Linked DNA regions of Homo sapiens: all the other regions are linked to region 1. Evidence: fine-mapped expression QTL. A gene starts in region 1. Each other region holds a variant in brackets. All regions are shown on one strand. Distances are between the middles of the regions.

Region 1 (10,565 bases):
AGGACTCCAGACCCACGTCCCTCCCTGGTTCTCTTTGGTTGCTAATCCACCCCCAGTAGCCACCTCTGTGCCCTGCCCCTGACCAGGGCACAGAAGCAGCAACACCACATACTCCAGGTCCAGGTTCCCAGAGAAGTCAAATTTGCCTCTTTCTGGCTCATGCAGGTTCCACGGAACATAGCTAGAAGAGGTGAGAGGGAAGTATGATGAGTATCTTCTTATTTCTTCCTCCAAATTGTTAGGTCTGCCCCAAATCCAAGCCAAAACCATGCATAGCTCTATTTTGAAATAAGTTGAAGTTACCAGTGGAAATTAAACCTCTGTTACACTAACCATGACCATCTTTAATAGTTCCTTGCTCTATTATCCAATTGTGGTTCAAGCTGCCAATTATCCTATGATGCTGGGTTTCTTGGGATTTATATATAAATTCTTCCACTCACTGCCCTATTGTAACACTCATTAAAAGTATAAATTAAAAAAGAGAACAAAAACAAAAATGTCTACATCTTCCTTATAAATTTTTGCTATGAGTTAGTCAAAATAAGAATAAATGAGGAGTTTCTGTGAAGATAGTGGAGTTACAGTAAATCTAGTAAGGGTACTACCTTTAGACCTTAGCAAGAAGGGCCCCCAGGGGACCCTCCCCCATAGGGCTATGAGTAAAAATTTTATTAGGTATACCAGGCATAGTTCACTAGGCAACTGTGTTTTTTTGTGCCACTGGCAACATGTTTGAGTGTTATGCCCCTTAACATCATGTTTCCTATAAGCCCTGTGGTTTTTATTACACAATTTTGTGCAGTGCAGAGATTTTTGACAATACATCGTAGAACTGACTGTATGGCCCACCAAGAAGACATACTAATCATGGCCTTCTATGAGCTTAACAACGTAGCTTGTTGTATGTTGTAAGTTACAACATAGCTTGCCGTAAGTAAAGGAGAAGCTGACTGAATTAGAGAGGACCTGGATACATCAGTTACCATCACAGTGAAAAGATTTAAAGTACCCCTCTAAGAAACAAAGAAAATAAGCAGCAAAAAAAGAAAAAGAAGAAACTTGTAAGGATACAGATTTGAACTGTGTAATTAAAAGTCGGCATGTAATAAATACATAGAGAACCCAGTAGCCAACAGATGGAGCATCTACATTCCCTTAAAAAGCGCATCTGTACAACTAAGTATGAAAAAAGAATGTAAAATTTAAAAGACCAAAATTTAAAATGCATGAAACAGTTGTAAAATATTGGCATGTACTATGTCACGAAGTAAATCTCAACAAATTCCAAAAACCTATATCACATAGTCCATGATCCCAAGATAAATGCAAACAAATTTAAAAATCACAGTTAAATAGTAAAATTTAAATAAATAAATAAATAAATAAAACAGAAAGCGTATTCCCAAATAGCTAATAGAAACAACATCAAAACTTAGGAAATATTTGAAAATAAATGACATTCAAAGCACTATATAGCAAAATTTGTGGGCTATATAACCAAAGCAACACTCAGAGAAACATTCATATCTTTGAAGGAATATATTAGAAAACACAAAAGACTGGAAGTAAAAGAAGCTAAATTTTAACTCAGGGAAAAAGAAGAAGGAGGAGGAGGAAACTGAGAAGGACAGAGAAGAGAAGGTACTATATTTAATAAAGTAGAGAAAAGGAAATTACACATAACTCAGAAACTGTGAAATACAGATCCGAAATATACAGAGAGTACTAACAAAGCTACAAGCTAGTTATCTGAAAAGACTAAATAGATAAGATTAAGAAAAAAGAAAAAAACAGCCAAAATACACAACGTGATGTATATAACTTCCAAGTGAGTACAGGAAAGAAAGGAAAAATTTCTTAAGTCCCAGTGGGTTCAAAAGAAGAAAGAAGGCTGGGCGAGGTGGCTCACATCTGTAATCCCAGCACTTTGGGAGGCCGAGGCAGGCGGATCACCTGAGGTCAGGAGTTTGAGACCAGCCTGACCGATATGGTGAAACCCCATCTCTACTAAAAATACAAAAATTAGCCGGGTGTGGTGGCGGGAGCCATAATCCCAGCTACTCAGGAGGGTGAGGCAGGAGAATCACTTGAACCCAGGAGGGGGAGGTTGCAGTGAGCAGAGATCGCGCCACTGCACTCCAGCCTGGGCAACAGAGCAAGACTCTATCTCAAAAAAAAAAAAAAAAAAAAGAAAAAGAAAACAGAAAGAAAAAAGAAAGGAAAGAAAAAAAGGGGGAGAGCAGGATGTATTCAAGAAGAAATAGAGGACATGAGTTAATAACCATTCAAAGAGCTATGTCGTCCCCAAACCCTTCACCTCACAAACCACAAAAGATAGTAGTCACAGAGTTTACAGGTGAATCTTAAGAAACTTTCAGGGTAAAGATAATTCTTGTGCAAAATATTTCCAATAAGTAAGAAAAGAAGATTTACTCACTTTATGAGCTTATTATAAGATTGATTCAAAACTGGACAAGAATACTAACAAAATAAAATTTTAAATCCGTTTTGCTTATAATCATAAACACATTTGAAATAAAACACTAGCAAATAAAGTCTAGCAATCTGTGTGTATGTAATGTGTGCCTATCTCAGAGCCAAGCAGAGTTTATACCAGTACCACATGGCTGCTTGACTATCAGAAAAATTGCCGTTGTAATTCAGCAATTCAAAAGAACAGTGAAGAAAAACTATATTGTCCCCCCAATACATGCAGTAGCAGCTCTCAATAAAACTCAACGATTATTTCTGATTAAATTCTTTGCATTTTAAATGAACCAGTTTACTGCCTCTCAGCTTCAAATTCACCCTTCAATACCAGCTCTGCAATAAGGCACAGGGCCCTCTAAGCATCTTCTCCTTTACAGTGAGTGTGATGGTAAGCTTGCCACAAAATGGTGGTGGCAGGCCCTCAGGAGGACAGGGCCTCTGATTCTGGAGCAGTTTTGCTTTTTTGTGGTCATACAGGGTGGCTGGTCAGTTGTATACAGGCATGAGGACGACCGTGGTGTTCCCTTTTAAAGGGTGAACTGCTTGAGTCCAGGAGTTTGAGACCAGCCCAGGCAACATGGCGAAACTCCATCTCTACAAACAATTCAAAAAATTAGCCTGGTGTGGTGGCATGCACCTGTGGCCCCAGCTGTTCAGGAGGCTGAGGCAGGAGGATCACCTGAGCCAGAGAAGTAGAAGCTGCCGTGAGCTAAGATCGGGCCACTGCACTCCAGCCTGAGCAACAAACAGAACAACAAACTGTGTCTCAAAAAAAAAAATTTTTTTTTGTTTTAAAAACATGCATGTATCTGTAAGTACATATTTATCTGTAAGTGTGCCTTAAGCTTATGTCATTAAACTGAGTGCTCCCAAGGGCGCCTGGTGTTCCTTCATTAGACAGACAGAATCCTGAGGAAATAACCTCCTCCCTTGAGATTCTCCCACTAACCCCTATCCAAGTCTTTGATCACAGAGCAAACTCAGCATGAGACTAAGTGACAGCTGGACGCTTAAGCATTAAATGTATGTGCTGGAAACGACTGTGCGGAAGGTAAGTCCTCACGCTGGGCCCCCAAAATCGGAGGCTCAGGTTCCCGGCCAGGATGCACTTGTAGGGTAACGAGATCCTGGAGGTGAGGGGCCGGCACTCACGTGGTGACAGTATTGAAGCCACAGGCCTTCAGCTTCAGCAGGCGGTCCCTCCAGTACTCCCTGGGCACCCGGAAATAGTGGATGGAGCCCCCGAAGATCAGGAACTTGTGGCCCTCCAGTGTGAAGTGGGGCTTACCCCGACCTGTGCTTTCAGTTCCAAGTCCCACAGATCGATTCTTCAGCTCCAGAGGGGTCAGATGAGACCAATTAAACCTGGAGGGGGCGGGCGAGGGAAAGAAAGTGGAAAGGGAGAGAGGATTCGGGAGAGGGCTCGGAGGCACGGCTGAAACCCTAGCGAAAAGAAGTTTTTGTTAGTAGGACGTGTTCTGTGCATATGTTAGTAGGACGTGTTCTGTGCATATGTTAGTAGGACGTGTTCTGTGCATATTCGCGATACTATTTTCTCCAAGAAAGGAGAGATCGCTCCCCTCCCTCCCCAGGGATGTAGCTCTCAAGCAAACCTAGGCTGGGACGGATGCGCTCTTCCAAGCATGAAGTTCTCTTCCTGCTTAAACCGAGGAGCAAAACCTGATGAGATAAATGGCAGGAAAAAGATGCCCGCCATTCTCTTCCAGGAGAGACACGGGCTGAAAGGAGAAAGGACAACAGTGACAAGGGGAAGGTTCCGGCCCCACCGGGCTGCAAGGGCCGGGAAGCTGTGCCGGGGGCGCTTTAGAGGCCAGAGCCAGGGAGGGGGCCCGCGACACAGGCGGGTCTTCCAGGCGGGCCCAGGGCCAGGACAGCGCGGCATCACCCGGCCAGTCCTCTGCAGCCAGGATGAAGGCCGGGGACAGACGTTCAGTCCTAGACCCTCCAGACAGGGCTGGGCAGTGCCGGTGGGTGCCTGGGAGAGGCGGAGGCGGGCGCACTTCCAGCACCAGGTTCGGGAAGGACACGGTGCCCAGCCGCTGGAGCCCCTGGCCTGCGTGCCCCACCCTGATTTTCTGGCATCTGGTGAACGGCCCCTCCGCAGGGTGGGGGTAGCCAGGGGATCTGCCGAGGAAAGCTGGGGACAGCGGGCTTGGTGGCGCGGCCCGGCGCGGCGCGTGCCTGGGGCGCGTGGCCGGCCACAGAACCCGGGGAGGGTGGAGGCTCCCGGGCACGCGCCGGGGTGGTGGGCAGCCCGGGACGGCAGCGGCGATCCGTCACCTGAGGAGGGGCGGGGACTTCATCGCGGCCAGGCCGAGGCGCCGAGGGTCCCTTGCGGCTTCCGCCCCTCTCCGCTGGCCCCGACGCCGCGCTCGGGCCGGGACTCGAGCCCCGGTTCCGCGGGGCAGGCTCAGGTCTGCGCGCTGCGCCTGCAGCCGAGGCAGAAATCCGTCCCGAGGCGCGGGCGCCGGGTCCGGGTCCCAAGGATGCGCGTCGGGCTCCCTCCCGCGGGGACAGCCGAGCTCCGCCGGCGCTCCAGGTGTTCCCGCAGTGCGTCCGGGCGCGGACGCCTCTCTGCCCTCGGAGGGGAAGCGGGAGGGCCCTTGGGGTAACGCCCCGACCTCGGGCTTCCTAACCTGGGTCGACAGCCGGCTGGCACAGGGAGGCCTGCGCGGGAGAGGGGCGGAGAGAGCGCAGCGCGGGGCACAGCGGGCGGTCTCCGTGCCGCGCGCGCGACTGGAAACGGCGTGCAGATCCTAAAACGAGGGTTCCACAGAGGGCCACGAGGGGCAGGAGAGAGTCCCCGGAGAACTCTAGCTCCCCGACACGGCTACCTCTTGGCAAACGAGCGAGAATTGGGGCGCAGAGCCTTGGGAGGGCCGTTCCCTCGGCGGGAGCGGCCCGAGCACAGCCTCACAGCAGATGCGAGCGCGGCGGGCGCTTTGGTGACGAAGTAGCGGGACCTGCAGGAGGCAGAGGCCTGGTGGGGCCGTGGACGCCACGCCGAGCTGCCCAGACCCTTCCAGAAGACAGTGGGGACTATTCAACGGTTTCCAGCAGAAACTAAGCCAGGTGTTCGTTTTACGGAGATTGCTCGGCTGCAGGGTGGAGGCTGGATGAGAACAGGCGTCCTCTCAGGTAGGCGCTCGTGGTGGTAACGCTGCCCAGGAGGAGGGCACGGGTTCCGGGAAGACTTGCGAGGTTAAACCGGCAGCTCCGGAGAACTGAGCGCAAGAGGTCGGTGACACAGAGAGGAGTCCGGGAGGCCGCATGTTTCAGGCTGAAGTCACTTGGCGGGGACGTTTATTGAGATGCGAAACACAGGAAGGGATAGAGGCTGCGCAGAGGGAAAAGGCGATGGACTCGGTTTTGGAAACGCTGATGTGAAGTCCCTACGATGAAAAAAGAAATCTTCCGATTTCTCCCTTTGAAGTCTTTGCTTCTTCCGTTGCAAAGAACACAGCCTATGACATCAGGTTGAAACCAAGAATGTAGTTCTCTGAAAATACTGTGTGTGGGGGAGGGAGTTTATCTTGTCTCATTCCTTACAAGGATACTTTGCTCTCCGACACCTTAGCTCCCTGAAAGTTTCCTAGATCGTCCATCTTTTCCTCATTTTTTCGACTGCAAGCAATGAACTGTTAATTTTTTACAGTTTGGTTTTACAGCCACACACTTTATTCTTCTTTGTCAAGTTTAAAGTATTCTAGGGCTTGTGCCTTCCCACATAAAATTTAGAATAAACTTGTCTGTTTCTACAAAAAGCCATGTTGGTATTTCGAGAGGAATTGCAATCAACCTATGGATCAAATTGAGAATTGTATCCTTATTATGTTGAATCTTCCAACCCACGAACATGGTATGTCTGTCTATTTAAATAGTTTTTTTTTTTTCACTTCTTTCATCAGAATTGTGTGATTTTTTCAACATCAGATCCTATCACGTTTTGTTAGGTTTATACTTAAATATTTCCTTTGCTCTCAAGAGATTTAAACTGTTATTATTTTTATTTCAGTTTTTACATGTTTGTTGTTAGCATACAGAAATGTGATTGTGTTTCTCATGTTGATCTCATATCCTGTGACCTTGGCAAACTCACCTATTAATTTTAAGAGGTTATTTGTGTATTACTTGGCATTTTCCATGTAGATAATCATGTCATCTGCAAATATGGAGAGTTTTATTTCTACCTTTCCAGTCTGCGTGGCTTTTTATTCCTTTTTTTGTGTGTCTTAGTATGATGACTAAAATTTCTGTGTTGAATAAGAGCGGCAGGAACTGACACTGTTACCTTGTCCCCAGTGTCAGCTGGAAAACATTCTGTTTTTCACTATTAAGTATGATGACAGCTATAGGTTTTGTGTACATATTCTCTATCAAGTTGAAAGAGTTTGACAGCTGGGCCTGCAGTCACTAGAAATGCTGTGGTGCTTTATTGGAACAAGCTATGTATCAAGAATTGTGATTTTCTGCAGGCGTTGCTGGAGGAATTTTGACAAAGGTAGAAGAATCAAATAATGGATTATTGGTTCATTTGAAAGATGACATATCCTGTGTCCTTTTGCCATCTGGGGCTCCCCTCTGCTGATGGAGTATTTGAGAACCTCTATGAAGGAGCCCTGGAGAGTGAAAGTTCCCCCAGATTTCTGTGCTCATTAAACCTGTAGAACTCTTGAAAATGTGCAAGGTGAAGTAACAATTTTGATCAAACAAAGCTGTCAGTTTCTGTCTTGAGATTACAGAAGTAACTCTACAAGGCCAACATCCCAAGCACAGGAAAGACCAGCCACTAGGGCCGCAGACCCAGCATCCTGGTACAATTTATTAAAAAAAAAAAAAAAAATCAATATTTTTCCCTTCAGTTTCCATCCAGATAACTGATAATGAAACAAAGAGCTAATTTCCCAAAGCAGGCAGAAAGCATCAAAAAGCTCCCAGAGCTGAGTGTGCAAACTTCCTGTGCCAGTGCTTTGATGTTAATAAAGCACAATTCCTGCTCCTAAATTGCTCTCTTGTAAGAACAGCAGCTTCCAGAAAAAGAAGGCAGCACTTTCTGTTGCTTTAGTAGTGGACAACCCTATAGGAGTTAATGTATGAACCAGAAAAGACAATTCTTGATTTCTTCTTAGGTTGAACTTCTTAAAGAAATGTATGTGACAACTGTATAATAAGAACCCTTGTGAGATCCAAAAACCTGGGTTAGGAACTAATATTATCAGTGAAAAATTAAAGGGAAAGATTATCAACTATTAATATTCCAGTGTCAGAGAGCTGTGAACAAAGAGTTGAGGCAGAGATATCTTTAAGGTTAAAGTATGCAAAATCTGTTGTTTACTTGTAAGATCATCTTTCTAGGTTTATTGATAGTTAATAAAAAGCAGCAAAATTTATAAAAGTGAAAATTTAGCCACTTCTACTTGTAAGCCATCCTTGTTAGAGAAACTCTTTGTTTACTTAAGTCATGTTTACTACAGGAAATGAAAAATGCTCATTTGAGCTATAAAATGGACTCCGTGGTCTCTTAGTAATTAATTTAACCCATGATGACACGCAGTTCACAGGCTGAGATGGAGGGATAGGTAGATGACAGATACATCCCTGCTAGAGATCTTCAGAGCCCTAGCTTTAAATTTCATCCTTACAGACATTCAAACTTTAAGTAAATTGATAACCTGTCTCCCACAGATTAAAAAATAAATGAAGTGGATATGCACCCCATCACGCAGGGCCACTCCCAGCAGAGGGAAGTGAAGCAGCCGGCCTCCTGTCCCTCCACAGGGTAACTAACGCTCAAGTGCAGGCCTTTCTAAAGGAGCTGCTCAGCAGGCGGCAGCCCAGCTCGGCCACCGGGCTCTGGCTGTTATCATTCAAATGTGCCTTTTTTATGGACTGAGTCTGCTAGATGCATTCATTAGTTAAGGAAATGGAAAATCATGCGGAGCTCCAGGTGAGAACCCAAGGTTAAAGTGTGTTCTCAAGAGTCTTCTCCCCTGGGAGTTGAAGTTAATCAGCCTGATCAGGTCGGGGGGGAAGGCTTCCTCTCTGCATGAGTGCAGCCTTGGTGATGGAAAAGGGCCACCCTTGAGAAGGTAAGAGAGGAGGGAAGATCGCTGTCTCCATGGGGCACCCAGCAAGAGGCTGCTGTCCTTGCAGATAACCTGATCCATTGAGCTAAGAGCTGGATGGGGAGTGTCTGTAAGAATATTAAAATCCTTATCCAAAAGTGATTTATTTTCATCAGGTTTTTTCCTCTGTTATGAATAGCTGACATTTACCAAGCACTCGTGTGCCAGGCACAGTTCTGCATGTTTGACATTTCTGTCTATTGTCTCTTAACTCTCACAGCACCAGAAAGCGGGTACCATTAGTATCCCTCCTTTATCAGTGAGGAAACTAGAGCACAGAGGCTTTCAGTGACGTCACACAGCAGGCTGTTGACAGCTGGGATCTGAAGGCCCTGGAATGGAAAGATTCAGTCTCATATTGCCCAATTCGGTTCGCTGGACTCTGCTCAGCAAGCAGCCGCGTGCGAAGCACTGCTCTTGTTCAAACTAAGTGAGATGGCCTAGGTGAAAATGCTTCAGGAAAAGCACACAAATGCACTTAAAATTAAAGTATAACCACGTGGCTAGCAAAGCGGAAAGTGAAATGCTTCTAAACCATCAGGTCTATAAAATAAACTATGGGAACATGGAAAACTATATCCAAATATTAGAAGGCTTAAAAATTCTTCTGTTTTTTCGGCTGGGCGTGGTGGCTCACACCTGTAATCCCAGCGCTTTGGGAGACCAGAGGTGCACACCATCATGCCAGGCTAATTTTTGTATTTTTTGTAGAGATGGGGTCTCACAGTGTTGCCCAGGTTGGTCTCCAACTCCTGGGCTCAAGTGACCTGCCTCCTCAATCTCTCAAAGTACTGGGATTACAAGGATAAGCTACCACGCCTGGCCAATTTTATTCTTTTGTATGTGGGTATCAGTTACTACAGAATAAAATCCAACTCCTTGGCATACCAGACCCCTTTACAGTTCAATATTGTTTGTGGGGATGGGGAGGGGGCACAATCACTTTCTCAGAGCTTTGGGCCTCAGAAAGTCTTGCCTCTGGTCAGGCTTCTCCCTGAGGAATGCCATGGAGCACAGGGGCTTCCTGAACCCTGCCCTTGGGGCCTGAATCTCAGGCACAGAACCCCTTACTTAAACACTGAAGCCCAGACCCAACCACCTGTCTCGCCACTGCCCTGTTCTCCCACCTTGCCTTGACTCAAATCCTTGATCACCTGCGCTCTCCCCTAAGCAAGCTCGGAACTGTGGGCAGGGAGGGAGGCAATACTGGGCTGCCCCTGTGCAGCCGGTCTGCAGACCTGCCTGGACACCACAGGGCTCCCATGCCACCCGTGTGTGGATATTCCTCCTCCCATCACTAACTCTAAGCCCTGGCAGCACTAACCTGTTTTCAAACTCTATAATGGCATTGATTCCAGAATGCCACGTAAATGGATTACACAGTGTGTTGCCTCTGAGTTTGCCTTTTCACTCCCTGTGCTGCTTTTGTTTTGTTTTTTGGTTTTTTTGCTTGTTTGTTTGTATGAGACAGAGTCTCGCTCTGTTGCCCAGGCTAGAGTGCAGTGGCGTGATCTCGGCTCACTGCAACCTCCACCTCCTGGGTTCAAGTGATTCTCCTGCCTCCGCCTCCTGAGTAGCTGGGACTACGGACGCCCGCCACCATGCCCTGCTAATTTTTGTATTTTTAGTAGAGACAGGGTTTTGCCATGTTAGCCAGGCTGGTCTCAAACTCCTGACCTCAGGTGATCCATCTGCCTCAGCCTCCCGAAGTGCTGGGATTACAGGCGTGAGCCACTGCGCCCAGCCATGAGTTGACTTTTGATGGGATATCTTCTCTGTTACTGTGTGAGATTTGCCAGTAGCTGCAAGAAGCGATCATTGCTGATGATCCTTTTTTTCCAGTCTTTTTCTATTTGTTCAATAAACATTGAGTTCCCTACTATGTGCCAGGAAGGCACTGAGGATGAAGAGATGATTCAAATATGC
Region 2 (8,735 bases), 52 kb before region 1:
GCTTCCCACTGGAGGTTTTGAATATGGAAAGTGCTGACCTGAAAGATAGGGTCAGGGCTGTAGAATCCTTAAAATAAGCACAGTTTAGAAAAATGCTGGGCTAGGGCACCCAGAAAACTTTTTCACAGGCTGTGGGTAAATCACAGTATCACTGAAGCCACTCCTTTGCCATAAACAACATTTGGAAAAGGGGGAGAGGAAAGGGTGAGCTGGTAACAGGTGAATGGTGGGAAAGTGGAGAGAGACGACCTATCAGTCCTACTGTGCAAATAAATCATGGCCCGGGATCTTGGAGGCCCACGGACACTGTTCTTACGACCCTGCCAGGCCAGCTGGCTAGACCATACCTGCCAGGCTGAAGCGCCGGCCTCTGCGGAATAAGGCGCCTCCCAGAGGCTTGGGAGGAAAAGGGGGGCCTGGGGGAAGGGCAGAGGGAGCTCTCCGCGGAGCAGTGGGGACGGGGCCGCGATGGGGTGCGTCTGAGAGGGCTCTGACGGCTGGAGGGCTGCGGGCGTCCACGGGGGGCAGAGCCCGGCGTCACAGGCGCGGCGGGGTGGGCGGCTCGGGGCACAGACGCCGGCTCCCGAGGGCACGCCGGGTGTCGCCCAGAGGCCTGGATCGCGCGGCAGGAGTAGAGTGCCTGCAGCCGCAGGGGAACTCGGGGGTATTGGGGAGCTCCCAGAAAGAAGCAGCTGGGGCTGCTCCCCCCGGGAACTCGGGATTCGCGGGTCGCGGGAGGAGAGAACCCGAGGTGCGGAGGGCTGGGGAATGTGGGGTCCGGCAGGTGCTGCGCGAAGCTCTCTCTCACCTGCGGAGCACCAGGAAGCCCAAGACGACCAGCAGCAGGAGTCCCAGCGTGCGGGCCGGCCTCCGCCGGAGGCTCCACGTGGTCATCGCGTGTTCTCTAAGCGCGGGGACCCGGGTTCCCACTCCAGTCCGCACTCAGCCGCGCGCGGGAGCCTCGCCGCGGGGGGCGGAGCCGCGCACTGGTCGCCTGGGCAACCGGCCCGCCGGCGCTCATTGGCTGGGGCTCGCGGCTCCGCGCCTGCAGCCCTAGGCCTCGCGCAAGCGGGGGCGGGGCTGGCCGGGGCCGGGGCGGGGCCTCTGTCGGGGGGGGGGCGGGGCGGGGCTGGTGGGCGGGGACGAGGTCTCGGTAGGAGAGGGGGCTGGCGGGGGCGGGGCTGGCGGGGCGGGGCCCCGGCCGGGGGCGGGGCGGGGACAAGGTCTCGGTAGGGGACGGGTCTGGCCGGGGCGGGTCCCCAGTGTCGTGGAGCGGTGCAGAGTCCGCCGTCTTTCTGCTCGCGAGGCGCAGGCGGGTGCGGGAATGCTGCGTACCTGTCAAACGCCGAGGTAAAGTCGCCCCTCGCAGCGCTACATCAGGAAGAACGTACAAAAGGCGTCCGCAAAGCAGGGGCAACCAACAGAATCTTTTAAAACAATTCAGATTCTGAAGCAAACAACTTTTTCAATAACAAATCATCCTGTGAAAAGCCAGGATTTTGAAGAATTGTATCTGGACACATTTCAGTGTGGTTCATGTCTGAGGAGGGGGGGTTCCAAATATTTTCTGTCTTTGGTTTCTGCGAGTCTTACTCTGGCCTTGACTCCAAGGGCTTCCAATTTTTTATTTTAAAAAGGTCCATATAAAACTCTCACATTTTAGGAAAGGAAGAATATCATTCTTATTCTGAAACAGAATGTATGTCCCAAAGAACATGATGTAGTATTTCGGTGCAACTTACACTGTAGCAATCACAAACCCAACTCCTCCCGGGAACAAAATTCAGATTTTACTGAAAGAAACTCGAGGAAGGGCAACGTTTTCCAGAGCATCCGGGTTTGTCGAATGTCTCCCTTGCCGCATGCTTTGAATTCATTTCCTAAACGGGGGCATAGTTTTGAACTTGTAAAGCCGACAGGAACCAAATGAAATTGCAGATCTTGGAACAAAGACACAGACTTGGGTATGAAGTGTCCTTTGTCTAGCGTTAAGCACATATTTAGTCAAGGAGCAAAAGTTAAATCAAAGAGAGGCAAAAACAAACGAACAAACAAGAGGAAAAAAACCCTGGCAGAACTGGGGAGGATAAGCTGGGCTTGGAGCAATCCGGGTCTGACTTAAGCACCGCAAACATTCCCAGAGGCGCGCAGAGGGAGGCCCACTCCCGTGGACGCGCTCCAAGCCCGCTCCTTTTCTCCATTGGGTAAGGCTATGATTGCTTGATGGCTATGAAGTCTGTGATGGAAACATGTTGGTTTAATTGGAATATACCAGCTAGCCCCGAAGCGTGTGGAGAAATTGTCAAAGGCTAGCCCCTTTGCCTGCAGGGGACCATCCGAAAGACATGCACCCCACATTCATCCTCTCACTTCTGGTCACGTTGAACAGTGGCAGAATCTATCAAATATAAGGGAATTCTCAAATGGTTTAAGCAATACAAGCATCTCCATTTTTCTTCAAACGTTAGCAAAAACTTAACATGGGTTGTGAAAACCGTGAACTCCTTGGCCCACCCTTGTATCCTTCGTTTTTATTTGTGCGAGAAAAATATACATAACTGAGTGTTTTCAAAAAAATTTCCCCTTAACCTTGTGGGATGTTCAGAACTAGGGACACACCCTGCTCACAGTCTAGGAACAATTTTACTTTATCTGGGCTTAATGATACCACAGAATGCTACAAAGTTAGCACTAACCCGAGATGCGTCTTGCTCATAGGCTGAGACTTTTTTTTTTTTTTTTGAGACAGAGTCTCACTCTGTTACCCAGGCTGGAGTGCAGTGGTGCAATCTCAGCTCACTGCAATGCCTCCCGGGATGCAAGCTATTCTCCTGCCTCAGTCTCCCGAATAGGTGGGACTGCAGGCACCCACCACCTTCCCCGGCTAATTTTTGTATTTTTAGTAGAGACGGGGTTTCACCATGTTGCCCAGGCAGATCTCAAACTCTTGACCTCAGGTGATCCACCTGCCTCGGCCTCCCAAAGGGCTGGGATTACAGGCGTGAGTCACCATTTCCAGCCTGAGACTTTTGTTTTTTAAAACATTAGGCCGGGTGCGGTGGCTCAAGCCTGAATCCCAGCACTTTGGGAGGCCGAGGGGGGCAGATCACGAGGTCAGGAGATCGAGACCATCCTGGCTAACACGGTGAAACCCCATCTCTACTAAAAATACAAAAATT[A/TA]GCCGGGCGTAGTGGCGGGCGCCTGTAGTCCCAGCTACTCAAGAGGCTGAGGCAGGAGAATGGCGTGAACCCAGGAGGCAGAGCTTGCAGTGAGCCGAGATCGTGCCACTGCACTCCAGCTTGGGCGACAGAGCGAGACTCCGTCTCAAAAAAAAAAAAAAAAAAAAATTAGCAAGATACTCCTTCAGTGTCTCCTTTCCAAAATGTTTAGTGATCTTAACCCAAAGCAGACAGTGAAAATACTCAAATCCCTGGGAACAAAAGCTACAGTTACAATGAGCTGGCATAAGAGTGGGGTAAAAAAGTGGTCTGCCAAGGTGCTTGGCTTGGTAATGAATCCCTGGTACACAGGAATCATCCTCTTCCCAGGCCTTCTTTCTAGTGTCCAGGGTTTAGAAAATACAAGAAATGCTTTTTAAAAAAGTTAAATCTTGTTGGTGTGCCATTTCCATTGCTCTAAGTCAGAGCTCCAACAGACCCAGAGGGCACAGTTCCTTCCTTGAAAATTCCTGTATCACAGATAATCAGCGGGAAACCGAAACACATACAAAATGCACACACAGGAGAATAAAAACCACACTCGCTCAAAATCAGTACAGTGAAGTCACGTGGGAAAAGCGATCATGTCAAACTAGTCTCATTTGCTGTTTCACTTTTTATTTTTAATAGGTAACAGGTTTACAGATCAGTTATTCATTCACGTAACTCATTTTTGAGGGCACTCTGCTAATGCTTTAAACACAGGATATCTGAATTTTAGGAAAACATTGGCAAAATTTCTTTTAGTCATGAGAATAAGATGAAAAATGTGGCTTCTACGATAGTACAGTCACTTGGGCCCCTGGACCAAGATATAACCCTCTCCTCCCCACCTCCTCCTTATGGACAGACACCTCTGTCCAGCAACCCCCATCCACCCTCCCCTCAGGAGAAGCAAAGTCCAGTTATGATGTCAAGTTGCCAGGGGTCTTGAACAAAGAAATTCAGAGCACAGGAGAATTCCTGGGAATAAATGAGGGCCATTTCAACCCTAGCCAAAACAAAATAGAAAGTCCTGGAATGGAGATTTGGCCTAGGAAAAAGAAAAGAGAAGGCAGATTTAAGATAAAGGAAGTAGACAAAGCTTTTCAGCCCCAAAGATATGTGAGTGGGACTGGAAGGGGCCTGTGCACATCCGATAAGGATGCACAGAACTTGATCTTTGGCCTTACCAAGCCTAACTATCATTTTGTAGGCTCAGCCTTTGAAGGCCTAATAGCCAAAGATCTAATTCTGCAGCATTGTATTTATTAAAAAGTAAATGACAAATTTTAATGACCATAAACAACATACTGAACACTGTTTCACATGCTTGGGATGTATCAGTGGACAGAACAAAGATCTCTTCTCTTTGAAATTTCTGTTCTAGCTAGGGAAGAAAGACAATAAAACTTAACAGAATGAATAAGTAAACTGTAGAGTATATTCAAAGGTAGTAAACTCCATTGCAAAAATTTAAGAAGTAATAAGGGAGCCAGGCCCAGTGACTCACGCCTGTAATCCCAGCACTTTGAGAGGCTGAGACAGGCAGATCATTTGAGATCAGGTGTTCAAGACCAGTCTGGCCAACATGGTGAAACCCCGTCTCTACTAAAAATACAAAAATTAGCCAGAAATTGCTTGAACCCTGAAAGTGGAGGTTGCAGTGAGCCAAGATCATTCCACTGCACTCCAGCCCGGGCAACAGAGTGAGACTCCATCTCAAAAAAAAAAAAAAAAAAAAGTAATAAGGGAAGGAGGACTGGGAATGTGGTGGGGAGGGGTCTGCAGAGAGGCGGTCTCCCCGGAAAGACATTAGCTGAACAAAGATCGGAACACAGTGGGAGTTCTCCATGCAAGCGAACCAAGATAGAACCTGGAGGAAGCACTGTCCAAGCAGACAGAGCAGCTCGTACCAAGGCCCTCAGGAAGGAGCATGACCTGGTGTCCCTGGTGTCCAAGGAAAGGCTAGGAGGACAGCGTGGGAGGTGATGGCAAGAAGGCAGGAGATGAGGACAGAGAGATACAGGGGCCTGATCATGCAGGGCCTTTAAGAGCAGGGCTTTGACTCTGAATGAAATGGGAGCCACTGCATGGTTTGAACATGGCGGTGATGATAACTTAGAAGGATCACTGGTGCCATGCAGTAATCCATATGGGAGACGATGCTGGCTCAGGGGACAGCGGTGGAGGTAGTGAGAAGTGTTGAATTTTTGGGAGTATTCGGAAAGCAGACATGAGAGGGTTGTTGCAATTCGTGGATTGTTTGTAGGGGGAGAGAAATAAAGGGGGCTTAAGAATGTCTCCCACAGGCTGGGCCTGAGAAACAAGAAGTGCTGGTCGCTGTGACCTGAGATGGGGAAGGTCATGGGCAAGTTTCTGGGAGACATCAGTAGCTCAGCTTGGACCTGCTGCATTGAGTGGAGTGGAGTGGAGACACCACGCAGGCTGCTGAACATCAATCCTGATGGTCCAGAAAGAGGTTTGGGATGGAGATACGAATTTAGGAGTTGACAGAGAGCTGGTATTTAAAGGCAAGAACCTGCACCAATTAACAAAGTGCAGACCGAGAAAGGGGATGGGGACAAGCCCTGGCACACCTAACACTGAGAAAAGGCAAGGAACCATGCCACCAACAGGTGAGGTTAAAGCAACACTGAGGATCGACCCGTGGATTTAGTATGTGGTAAACGTTGGTGAACTGGACACAGGCAGCTTGGGTGGAGTTGGGGGTCATGGGATTTGGGAAGCCAACTGGAATGGGTTCGGGAAGGAAGGGTGAAGAGAAATCTAAGACCATTAATGTAGATGACTCTTTTGAGAATATAGGCTAGAAAGGGGACACATAGGCTGGGTGCGGTAGTTTACGCCTTCAATCCCGGCAATTTAGGAGGCCGAGGCGGGTGGATCACCTGAGGTCAGGAGTTCGAGACCAGCCTGGCCAATATGGTGAAACTCCATTTCTACTAAAAATACAAAACTTAGCTGGGCGTGGTGGTGGGTGCCTGTAATCCCAGCTACTCAGGAGGCTGAGGCAGGAGAATCACTTGAACCAGGGAGGCAGAGGTTGCAGTGAGCTGAGATCACACTACTGCACTATAGCCTGGGCAACAAGAGCAAAACTCCATCTCAAAAATAAATAAATAAATAAGAAAGGGAATACATAAATGGGATGGTAACTGGGGCAGAAGAGGGAACTGAATCAAGAGCCGTGTTCTATTTTCATTTCTACTACAGCATGCTTGTATGCTGATAGTGATCTTGATCAGCAGACAAAACTGGTGAGGTAGGACAGACCGTAGAGAATTTCTGTTGTGAAACCCTTGAGGAGGTAAAGTGTAGGGACAAGGTGACCAAGTGAAGGGATTAGCTTTAGGTTGGAGCATATGAGATAGTTTAAGTCCTCACTGAACTCTTGACAACAGAGTGATCACTGAGGTTAATTTCAAATCCACGTCGTAACCCTGCCAGATGTGAGAGTGAGGCGTGTCACCGGAATTTGTTGTTAATATCAGAACACGCTTACCCCTCTGTATCTGTGGGTTCTGCATCTGTGGATTCAACCAACCATGGATTAAAAATTTTTTTTGTAAAAAATTCACATCTAGAGTGGAGGGACTGGGGATAGTTAATGGGTACAAAAATATATTTAGATAGAATGAATAAGATCTAGTATCTAATTTAGATAGAATTTAGATAGAATGAATAAGATCTAGTATCTAATAGGTAGTAACAGGATAACTACAATCAACAATAACTTATCGTACATTTAAAAATAACTGTGGGAGGCCAGGCACGGTGGCTCACGCCTCTAATCCCAGCACTTTGGGAGGCCAAGGCGGGTGGATCACAAGGTCAGGAGTTCAAGACCAGTCTGACCAACATGGTGAAACCCCATCTCTACTAAAAATACAAAAATTAGCCGGCATGGTGGAGCATGGCTGTAATCCCAGCTACTCAGGAGGCAGAGGCAGGAGAATTGCTTGAACCTGGGAGGTTGCAGTGAGCCAAGATCGCGCCACTGCACTCCAGCCTGGGTGACAGAGAGAGTCCGTTTACATGGGAGTATAATTGGATGGTTTGTAACACAAAGAAAGGATAAATGCTTGAGGTGATGGACGCCCCATTTACCTTGATGTGATTATTACACATTGCACACCTGTATCAAAATACCTCATGCACTCCATAAATATATACACCTACTATGTACCCATAGATTTTTAAATTAAAACGAAGAAAACTACAAAGAAAACACATGTGTACTGAACATGTACAAACTTTTTTCCTGTCATTATTCCCTGAACAATACAGTATAACCCTATTTACATAGCATTTACATTGTATTAAGTATTATAAATAATCTCAAGATGATTGAAAGGATACAAGTGAACGTGCATAGATTATATGCAAATACTGCCTCATTTCATATCAGGGACTTGAGCACCTGTGGATTTCGGTATCCATAGTAGATGGTGGAACTGGTCCCCCACGGATGCTGCAGGACGACTGTACTCACTTTGAAATGCAAGTATGCATTTGAGATGTAACATAAAGTGAAACATTAAAATGTTATCAGCAGGTTAAAGTGAAATAAAGCAATTACTGATTATTATAAAAACTGTTGATTTAATGTCCAAAAACAATTATTAAGAATTTTCAAATGTTGAAGCACCTAAGGAAACAGATTGACAGCTCATGTGAATGTGGAGAGCATACATTAGCTTTATAACTTTATAACTTTGGGAAGAATATGATATCCTCTTTAAGCCAACAATGTATAGAAAATATGTTTTTAAAATATAAAATGTAGTATAAAATATGTAAACATTTTATATCATATGAATTATAAATTTAAATGTATAAGTAATAAATATATATTAACACAATAAAGATTATGTTATATCACAATTTTTATCATTTTAGAATTGCTTGATGAGTACCATTTATTACACTAAACAACATGCATGTGTTTTTTATAAAAATGTGGTTTATACCAAATTTATTGTTATTATTTAATATCATTCAGGCCATGAATCTTTGAAGAAAAAGTCTTCTTTGGGGATTCTTGCCACCTCAAATTTCATGAGAAGGCAAATCTCCAAAATTATGTGCAGCTACATCTATGATAAATCATTTTCAGCTCAGACAGAACAAAGAACAGACAAGGTACAAAGAAAAAACGATAGTGGTCGGCAAAAATTAGGCACATTATGTTCTCACTAATCCAACTTCAAAAGACAGATTTATAATAACACTTTTAAAAGATAATTTCTTATAGCTTTGAGTCTGCAGAGACTAAATAAAAAGCTTCTCAGGATAATTGCTATATGCTGGTATTTTTAGTAGTTTTTTGGCTGCCAAAGAATTGTTTAAATCTGCCCAAGTTATGACTTCGAGGTACAAAGCTCCTTCTACAAAACATGCTACTAAAATATGTTTTCCTGAATTATATTTTACTGTGTATCAATCAGTGATATTATTAAAATATCCATGTCTTGTATATCAGATATTTGGGCATGCAGAAACAAATAGAAGTTG
Region 3 (10,565 bases), 42 kb before region 1:
TCTGTCGCCCAGGCTGGAGTGCAGTGGTGCCATCTCGGCTCACTGCAAGCTCCGCCTCCCGGGTTCAAGCGATTCTCCTGCCTCAGCCTCCCAAGTAGCTGGGATTACATGCACCCACCACCAGGCCGACTAATTGTGTGTGTGTGTGTGTGTGTGTGTGTGTACGTGTGTGTGTGTGTGCGCACGCATGTGTGTGTGTTTAGTAGAGACGGGGTTTCACCACGTTGGCCAGGCTGGTCACAAACGCCTGACCTCAGGTGATGCATTCACCTTGGCCTTTCAAAGTGCTGGGATTACAGGCATAAGCCACCGCGCCCAGCCAATTTTTGTTATCTTAAAGTCCAATTGCATGACTTCATTGTTACATGTTTGGATTCAATGTTTAAGAGGACAAGTTTTTAGGGAAATGCAAATCAAAACCACAGTGAGATAACATTTCATACTCACTAGGATGGCTGTAATCAAAAAGAGAGCTTAAAATCAAGTGTTGGTGAGGATGTGGCGAACTTAGAAACCTAATACCTTGTTGGTGGGAACTGTAAAGTGCTGCAGCCACTTTGGAAACAGTTTAATGCTTTATGGAAAAGTTAAACACAGAATTACCGTATGACCCAGCAATTCCTCTTCCAGGTATATAACCAAGAGAATGGAAAACATACGACCACACAAAAACTTATGCATGAATATTCATAGTAGCATTATTCATAATATCCAAAAAGTGGAAACAACTCAAATAATCATCCACTGATGAATGGATAAACAAAATGCTATGTATCCATACAATGGAACATTATTCAGCCATGAAAAAGGATAGAATATACATGCTACAGCATCCATGAAGCTTGAAAACGTTAAGCTACATGAAAGAAGCCAAACACAAAGGGTCACATATTCGATTCCACTTTCGTAAAATGTTCAGAATAGGCAAATCCACAGAGACAGAAAGTAAATTCATAGTTGCCAGGGGCTGGGTGGAAAGGGGAATCAGGAGTAACTACTGACAGGTTAAGGGCTGCTATCTGGAGTGATGAAAATGTTCTAGATCAGATGGTGATGATGCTGGTACAATCTCGTGAATATATCCTACTAAAAACTACTGAATTGTAGACTTTAAAAGAGTTTACAACTCATTTTGAAAAATTTTATGGTATATGAATCGTATCTCAACTTTTTAAGTAGAACAAACGTTTCTCAAGTACAAGGTACTTTTATTTTTCTATTTCTACATATAGATCTGGAAATGTTTGCTTTACATATTATGAAGCTACATTTTCAGACAAAAACAAGTCAAAATTAGTATATCTTTCTCAGGAATTGAATTTCCATTACTATGGGTAACCCTCTATACCTAGTAACACCTTCTGTCTTTAAGTCTACTTGCCTGATGTTAATACAGTTACTATAGTTCCTTCAGTTAGAATTTGCATAGCATATTTTTTATCCTTGGACTTTCGATCATTGCATCTTTATGTTAAAGGTGTATCTCTTGTAAAACTCAAATATTTATAGTTTTCTTTAAATAATGTCTGACAATTTTTACCGTTTAGAGTTTAGCGCATTTATAAAATTTACTATGGTTGCTGATATATCTGTATTTATTCTACTGTCTTAATATGTGTTTCTACTTGTACTTTTTTTTTTATTATACTTTAAGTTCTAGGGTACATGTGCACAACGTGCAGGTTTGTTACATATGTATACATGTGCCATGTTGGTGTGCGGCACCCATTAACTCCTCATTTACATTAGGTGTATGTCCTAATGCTATCCCTCCCAACTCCCCCCACCCCATGACAGGCCCCAGTGTGTGATGTTCCCCTTCCTGTGTCCATGTGTTCTCATTGTTCAATTCCCACCTATGAGTGAGAACATGCAGGGTCTGGTTTTCTGTCCTTGCGATAGTTTGCTGAGAATGATGGTTTCCAGCTTCATCCATGTCCCTACAAAGGACATGAACTCCTCCTTTTTTATGGCTGCATAGTATTCCATGGAGTATATGTGCCATATTTTCTTAATCCAGTCTATCATTGATAGACATTTGGGTTGGTTCCAAGTCTTTGCTACTGTGAATAGTGCCACAATAAACATACGTGTGCATGTGTCTTTATAGCAGCATGATTTATACTTGTACTTATTTTTCTACTTCTTTATCTTCTACTATCTTTTGTCTTTTATTGGTTAGAGGATTTTGTTTGTTTGTTTTTTCTTACTCTATTTATCCTCCTAATTTTTTTAGAAAGTTAAAAGCTCTATGTATATTCTTTAAACATTAAGCTTAGTTTATTAACTAGGAATATTCAACAAAGTCTAAAGTTAATATCTGAGAATTACAGAAATCTTAGATCACTTTTTGGCCATCACATCCCTCTCGCTTTACACAGTGTTTTTGCCTGGTCTTAGAGTTTTATGCTGATGCTACCTCAAGTTAGACATTGGCTCTATTTCTATGGAGTTAACGTTTGTCCATATTCACTCTCACATATGTCAGCATCCTTCTTGGATTCCACGTTCTTTCTTAAAAGTCAGACTTTCCATCTGCTCGTGGCATATCTTTTAGAAATTTCTTCTCAACTGTGGTTCCCTGAGAGCGTGAAGATGTAATGCCCCAAGACATCCACAGTATGTAATGAGTTAACGTCTCTAATATGCATCCAGATGATATAATGAGAAACTAGTCACTGAAGACACTTTCTGCAGTGTTTAATTCTCTTATGGGACATTGAGAAAGGCCGCTACAGAACATCATTTAGTGGGGATCTTTTGATGATAACTCTCTTGGTTTTTGTTTGTCAGAAAGTTCTATATTTTGTTTTTTTTTTTTGTTTTTCTTGTAAAATAGTTTTGCTGGGTAAAGAATTCTAAGTTGTGAGCTCTTTTTCTCTAAGTGCACTGAAAGCATTATATCTTCTGAATAGCATTTTTGCATTCATATTTGGAAAAGACTGGCATACGTGTGGAACTAAGGTAGTAGCGAAAGAGGAGGTGCCAATCAGAGAGACATGATTTCAAATACCTCTTTGAACCTTGGTTTCTCATCTGTAAAATGGATATGTTGCATGGTTGTTGTTAAGTTTAGATGTTGCAGATGTTACACCTGAAATATAATATGTACTCAAGATCATTATGATTATTAGTTCTGCTTCCCTCCTTTACATTGCAGTTTCTATAGAGTTCATAGGTTTGAGGCTAGATCCCCAGAGAATAAAGTTTTATGTAGAATTGTGGAGGTATCTCACAGAAGTTTCCTCCATTGAAATAGTCATTCAGACTAGTGGGAGAGAAGATAATCTGACATCTTTATCTTCATTCCAATCCAAACAGAGGGTTCTCTTCCCTCTGGACACAAGATTACTTACTAAATTACTTGAAAGCCCTAGGCACTATATTTAACAGGGTGATAAGATTTGCTTATAGTGCATTGGTTTGAATTTAGGCCAAGTGCTGTGTTTTGTATATAAGAAAGTGCTTGGTTCCCAATGGTGCCATTTTTTTCAAATGGCTCCACTGGCTTTTCATAGTGGTTGGAATATTCATGTGTGTGTGGCTAATCTCACTAATGCCTACCCACTATCAGTAGTAGCCTTGACTATAGCCAGATAGACAGGGAGTAAGAAGACACAGAGAACCCTGCGCTAGCTTTGTTGTCACACGTGTCTGAAGCAAATGACCAAATTTCTGTTCCTTCTCTGATTAGATGTGACATGCAGGGTCACCTTGTAGACACATAGTTGAAGGGAAATGAAAGACATTGTTCATTGCCCTCTCCTTTCCCCTACTCCTACATACACACACACACATGCACGCGCGCGCGCACACACACACACACACACACACATACACAGAGAGAGAGAGAGAGAGAGAGAGAGAGGAGGGAGACCGTGAGTTTGCCCATTAGTACATGCAATACTCTCTCTGGCATGAGGAAATCAGTATCCTTACTCTTCCCCAGGCTTCAGACCTTTCCCTTCCCTTCAATTGAGTATGGGAGGCAGAAATGAAACTTGTTTTTATTTTATTCACATCTACTCAAAGGCACGTTTAATTAAAGAATAAGAGCCTGCTAAGGATTAAGCATTTAACTAGATAAATCAGTCATTAAAGATTTTGAAGACTTTTTAAAGCCTAAAAATAGGCATCATATAGATAGACTACAAAATACATAACAATTCCTCTGCTGTTTTGTTGTTGTTGTTATTTTCACATTTTTGCTATTGTAGGCAACACTGTGTTTGATAGTCTTAACATAAATCTTATTCCTCAAAAATGACTTATAGATGAACTCCAGCAACCCAAAAAATATGTTCACGGCCGGGAGTGGTGGCTCACGCCTGTAATCCCAGTACTTTGGGAGGCTGAGGAGAGCAGATCACAAGGTCAGGAGATTGGGACCATCCTGGCTAACTTGGTGAAACCCCATCTCTACTAAAAATACAAAAAATTAGCCAGGCGTGGTGGCGTGCACCTGTAGTCCCAGCTGCTGGGGAGGCTGAGGCAGGAGAATGGCGTGAACCCGAGAGGCTGAGCTTGCAGTGAGCAGAGATTGTGCCACTGCACTCCAGCCTGGGCGACAAAGTGAGACTCCATCTCAAAAAAAAAAAAAAATGTTCAGACACAGTTTTACAGCGTGGGCTTGTCTGTAGATTTGATATCTGAGCCACTCATCATCTTCTCAAACAAGATGACCTGAGAAGAAAAGAAAGGTTGACAGTGGGAAAGGTGAAGCCTATTTAGTACAGGTTGAAAAAGACACTGCAACTCACATTTTGATCTGAAAGTTTATGAGATCTCAAGGCAGAGACTGGAGTGACATACCTCATTGTCTTCTGGATGAAGCCAAACTCCAGGAAGGTACAGTGTTTTCTGAGGCCCAATATTCCAATATCGCCCAAGGTTACGTCCATTGATGAACAC[A/G]AATCCATAATTCCAGTTCTGAAAGGAATGGTGGCTTGAGATTTGGAAATTGGTTCACATTAGCAAGGTAAAACCTAAGGCACTTGGAGAGTGAGAGCAAGATTGAGATACTTTATGGCACTCAAATGAAGGTGAGTTTAGAGTGGGATATGTTATAGAACTTCTACCTTGCTGTCTAGGAATGAAAGAGAAAAGCATAAATAGAACCAACCCTTTAATGGTAAGGCTGCTATTGTTCCTGTTATGTGATATATAATGTTATATATTTTAAAAAGCAGATCTTCTACTTCCAGAAATAAATATCAGGTAATAGTGATGAACACCACTGCTGACAGTGGCTATTAATATAAAAGCTGCACATTTTTAAAAATCTGCTTGCAATATAATGAAGAATTACAGGATCAAGATCTAGAAGAAGAAAATGGAGAGACAAGGAGACATCTAGGCAGTTTTTCCACTAGAGGCACCTGCTTATTCTGGGATATAACAAAACAGTCTAGCACATAAAATTGGAGTCTCTGAAATGCTTCAAATTAAAGGGCAAAGGTTGCTGGTCTTGATTTCAAATAAAGTAGTTATATGCTACATATAAGAGAAGCATCAAAAACATAAGGCATTGGAAAAATAAAAGAAAAACAATGGATAATGATATGTAAACCCTAACCAAAAGGAAGTTGCTATAGCTCTGTTAATATTCAGAAAAATAATACTTTAAGGCAAGAAGCATTATTAGAGATAAAGAGGGACATTTCATGATGGTAAAATTCTTAATTTACCAAAAATGTATATACAACATACATAAGAAAGATAAAAGCAGAGATTCAAAACATATCAGCGAAATTGACAGAAGAGAAATAAATAAATTTACAACCATAGCGGGAAATTTTTATACAACCTTTCAATAGTCAATAGGCAAAGCAAATAACAATCAATAAAGACATAAAACATTTAAAAGAAGATGATTAACAAAATTGAACTAATTGACATAATAGAACATTGATCTAACATCTACAGTATACACATATTCTTTCAAGTATACCTCAGAATATTTACAAGCTTGATCCTGTATTAAACTAGTCTTCACATAAACTTCTCAGACTATAATGCATTTAAGAAAGAAACTGATAAAAAAGATAACCCTAAAATATCCAAATTCTTGGAAATTAAGAAAAGCACTTCTAAATAAACCATAAATCTAACAAGTAATGACAAAGGAAGTTGGAAAATATTTGAATTCTTTGATGATGATGATAAAATTGATAGAAACTTGTAGGGTATAAGACTATCAGCAGATTTTTCAGCAGAAACCTTGCAGGCTAGCGTGGAATGGACCGATATATTTAAAATGCTAAAAGAAAAATCAACTGGCAACCAAGAATACTACATCCAGCAAAACTGTCTTTCAAAAATGAATAAGAGATAAAGACTTCCAGACAAAAACTGAGGGAGTTCATCGCCACTAGACCTGCTTTACAAGAAGTGCTAAAGGAAGTCCTTCAACTTGAAAAGAAAGGAACTTAAACAGTACCAAGAATCCACAAAAAGTATAAACTGATTGGTAAAGATCATCAAGTTTCCCCCCGGCAACAACATGGCCCCCAGAGTGGCCTGCAGCTTTCTGGACACTGCCTCCAGGACATCCAGTGCCTCAGGTTGAATACTACCTGCCAAATGGCGCCTTCGGTCTACACTATTTGCCTTAATATGAGAAGAAAGCACAGCCCTACTATAGCAAAGTTCTGGACCCAGGGAAGCTTCTCAATGTCCCCCAAAACATGGAAGTTGTCATTATGGGCAAGTGCTTGTGAAGCATGTGACCTTCAACAATCCACACAGCCGTATGAAGGAAAAGTAAAATTCCAACTTAAAACTTAGAGGTGAAAGAGCAAGAGTAGGTATTTTATAATTCCTAGCAGACTCAAGAAGATTGGCCCTAACCTGCAGGATAATTTGCAGACCTTCTCTTTTGTTGGGCTTAATTTGCCTGCCAGCTCCTTACAAAATCATCTTTAAGACATTCTAAAATGCACATACCGAAGTCTACTTGACACCTTCAGAGAAGCACCTACAGGTGAAGTGCTCACCTTTAGTATCAGCTGTTTGTTATGAAACCTTTATTATTTTTTAGATAGAATTTATAGTTATGATTAAACTGTTAGGCTAACATGGCAACCTTAAAGCAGCAATTATCCAACTAATAAGACACTAAAATGATTCATCTCTTCCTATATAGACATCGCTTGTCTTACAACTTATTTTTTCTGTATTTCAATATGAACCATTACCCATATAATAGAAAGTATAATATAAAAATAATGCACTGATATGAAATATGGCTTATAATTATGTACATTCTGAATTCTTGCTTTGAAGAATGTAATTCTTCAGTCATGAAAATAAATACAATAAATTTATTCTTATTCTACGTGTAAAAAAAAAAAAGGTATGGGAGTCATTTCCAATATAGGCAAATCCATAAAGATAATAAAAAGATTGCTGTTGCCAGGCGGTGGGAGAAGGGGAAAATGGAGAAGTAATTGCCCAATGTTTATAGGATAATGAAAATGTGCTGGAACTGGAGATAGAGGCTGCATAGCATTGTGAAGGCATGAAAGACTACTTAATCGTTCACTTTAACAGAACTAATTTTATGTTATGTAATTTTACCTCAAAAAATCTTTTTAAAACTTAGAGGATGCAACCAAATCCACGCGTAAATGATGATTAATAACCTAAATTCATATAATTAAAAAGAACAAAGACTGAAAGTCCATTATCTAAGTATCTATGTCAAGACATTATAAAAATAAAGCAAATTAATCCTAAACTAAGAAATTGAATAAACAAAATAATAAAGATAATGACAGAATCAGAAAATAAATACTTAACACAGTAAGAGTCATAGCCAAACACTGTACTTTGAACAATTAATAAAATTGATAGTGTTCTGGTGAGAATTATCAAGAAAAAAGAGTGCATCGATATCCTGTAACAAATGACAAGGGGAACGTTACTACCAATGATCTAGACATCAAAAACGAATATTTTAAAGGCAATATATTTGAAAATTTAGATGAAATGGGAAAATTTCCAGAAAAATATATTTTCTCAAAGCTAACTTTAAAAGAAACAAAATCTGAATAGTACTTTAATCTTTCAATAATTGAATCCACACTCACACACTTTTTCAAAAAGAAAATGCCAGCTCTAGAAGGCTTCACTAATGAACTCCATTAAATGTTTAAGAAGTGATACTTGTCTTACACAAATTCGCCTTCCTAAATCCTTTATGAGATCCCTAAACATTGGCACCAAAACCTGACAAAGAGATCTCAGTTATGAACATAAACACAAACGAAGTCTTAATTATTTACCATAGACAAGCCCTAGATATAATCCAAATGTTCAGAAAAAGTAAAATGGTTAAATAAATTATTATAATGTATTTACTAAATGAACCCAATACAACAGTGAAAATGAACAAATCACTGCAACATCGATAAATGGCTGAACCTCACAATGTTGAACAAAAGAAAACATATTTAAAAAAGATGCCCTGTATGATTCCATTTACATAAAGTCAAAATAGGAGACACTGGCCTAGGGTGTTAGAAGTCAAGGCAGCAGTTGGGAGGGGTGCCAACAATATTTTTAACTTTCAGTGATAATTATATGGTGTTCACTTTGTGATCATTTGTTGATCTGTACATTCACATTTTGTACATTTATGTTATCTATGTGTATTTATACAGAAAAAGATATTCTAAGTAAAAACTAACTTACCAACTCACCCCACACAGAAAAAAAAGGCAAGCTTCAGAATACATAGTACAATTCTATTAGTGTAAAAATAATTGTGTACGTGTGTGTTCAGGCAAAGTTATATATAAAAATGTACCACTGTTGGCAGTGTTGAGTTCTGAGAAGCAGAGACTAATTGGAATGGGGGTGGGTTCAAAGGCGAACTTCATGCTTTGCTCTCTCCCTCTTGTTATTGTTTGAATTTTTAATTGTGCTTTGATGTGTTATTCTCTGAACAGTGATAAATTAGGAAGACTGATCAATGTTGGAAGGCTTGGTTGGAGATGAGGAAGAAGAGGAAAAGAAGAAAGGGAAGTATTCCTCCAGGAACGCTGGCTTTGCTTCAGGACTCTTTAAAAATAAAATTGGTGTTTGGAACACCAGGGCAGCAGAGGGCATCACCTACCAGCAGGCTCAGGAAGGTGTCCTTGGGAGAAGGGCCAGCCTTCAAGGTCCCACAGTAGAAGGCCGGGCCCTGGTGGCTGTCTGGGACAGGCTTCCAGGTGGCAGAGCGGAGCCTGGAAGAAAGGCCAAGCCATGGGGGAGAAGAAGTCCCCTTCCCAACCCAGTTCCCAGTACCCACCCCAGGTGGCGTGGGCCGAGCCTAAGGTTCTGTTTCAATGAGATAGAGTAGACTAGATGCGTTAAGATCAGAATCAGGACACTTGTTCCAGGGCCCTAGTTCTGACGCCGAAGTACCCAACAGCCTGGAGTACATCACTCAGTCTCTATCTTGGACTCTTTATCTGCAATGAGGAATCTGAAATCTCTGAGTTCCCCGATCACTGAAGTGTGCACTGGGGGCCAGCTGGAGCATACCTCTCAAAGAAGCTCATTTTCATCTCCAGGGAATAGATGGTAAAGCCCTCCAGGGAAGAGTTATTGATGCTGACAGATCCAGTTATTCCTGCAGATGCAGATGGGAGGCAGGAAAGAGAATATGAGCCAGGACTGGATATTCTCTAGCATCTGGGACAAAGCAATGCAGACTTGTACATGCCTTAGGACAGGGGCACAGCCAGGAGGGCAAACATTTGTCTGACCTGCTGTGACTGAAGGGTTCTAGCTGTATGTTTCCACACTACCAAGAAAGTTCCCCCACTTAGTACTGGAACTTTTCCTGAAATTCCCAAAAGGAGACTGGCCCTGCTTGAGGACAAGCCAGCACCGAACACACTGGCCCCACCCTCTGGCCCTGGAGATCAGAGAAGGCAAGACAAGGGCGAGGGGCCGATTTTGCATCTCTGCTCCCAGGGCCTGGGTAGCCCACTGCTGAGCGGCTGGTTTCCCCACCCTCTCCCGCCCCCGACTCCAGTGCATAGCCCGGGTCTTCGGTTCTGAGCAACTGAGGAGAAGCCACAGCCAGAGCCCACCTTTCTGCTCATTCTGTATTTGCCATGAAAAATTGACTCGTCCTTGATTCTCCACCAGGATCCTCAGGTATCGGCAGTCCTGCTGGGACAGGCCAGGTCATGGAGACCACGCAGCCATGGAGGGCGTCTACCCGACAACCCGTTTTTTCACTGAGTCCCACATGGAGAGACACATGGGAGAACAGGAGGCTCCAGGGCCCAGCAGTCTTCCCTTCACCTAAGGACTGCCTTGTGTTCCTATAGTCAATCTTCCCTTTCCCCTCTGCTGATCCTACTAGGAAAGGCAGAGAGACTCAGCTGTACCTTTAACCAACTCCAAAAGGCACAGAAACCCAACCAGGGGCTGAGGACAGGCTCAGGACTTGGTGAGGAAATCCCCTCCCCTCCAGCACACATGCGGTAGCTCCTGAGGGGCCAGGGCCTGGGAGGCACTTTGGCTTCCAGCCCTGCACACTTCCTGCCGCCGCCCCAGGTGAGCAG

Direction of the effects. Positions count from the first base shown, and alleles are read on the strand shown. Sizes are in standard deviations (SD) of each study's normalised expression.
In carriers of allele TA in region 2, the expression in thyroid of the gene that starts at base 5,179 in region 1 tends to be lower than with A alone (moderate effect, 0.45 SD a copy in GTEx).
As copies of G replace A in region 3, the expression in testis of the gene that starts at base 5,179 in region 1 goes up (small effect, 0.23 SD a copy in GTEx).

What was found. PIP is the estimated chance that this variant, and not a neighbour inherited with it, causes the effect.
Region 2: its variant is fine-mapped to the expression of GLB1L3 in thyroid (GTEx, PIP above 0.99).
Region 3: its variant is fine-mapped to the expression of GLB1L3 in testis (GTEx, PIP 0.94).

Annotation. Positions count from the first base shown.
Region 1 is chr11:134,270,993-134,281,557 of GRCh38, reverse strand. GLB1L3 (galactosidase beta 1 like 3) reads right to left here and starts at 5,179. Exons shown (of 20, transcript NM_001080407.3): 1 at 4,795-5,179; 2 at 4,107-4,232; 3 at 3,646-3,858; 4 at 113-181. The coding sequence starts at 4,817. RefSeq lists a silencer at 5,001-5,070 and enhancers at 5,521-5,570, 5,721-5,850, 5,911-6,020, 8,161-8,716.
Region 2 is chr11:134,324,221-134,332,955 of GRCh38, reverse strand. It overlaps GLB1L2 (galactosidase beta 1 like 2), which reads right to left and starts at 968. Exons shown (of 19, transcript NM_001370461.1): 1 at 809-968. The coding sequence starts at 894. It also overlaps a transcript of GLB1L3 not described here. RefSeq lists a silencer at 819-1,118. The variant A/TA (reference allele first, on the strand shown) is at 3,180.
Region 3 is chr11:134,312,995-134,323,559 of GRCh38, reverse strand. GLB1L3 (galactosidase beta 1 like 3) reads right to left here. Exons shown (of 20, transcript NM_001080407.3): 16 at 10,086-10,164; 17 at 9,532-9,619; 18 at 9,119-9,230; 19 at 4,813-4,929; 20 at 3,996-4,683. The coding sequence ends at 4,618. It also overlaps the pseudogene LOC100421417. Among named protein-coding and RNA genes, the nearest start is that of GLB1L2, 14 kb to the left of the region's middle. The variant A/G (reference allele first, on the strand shown) is at 4,912.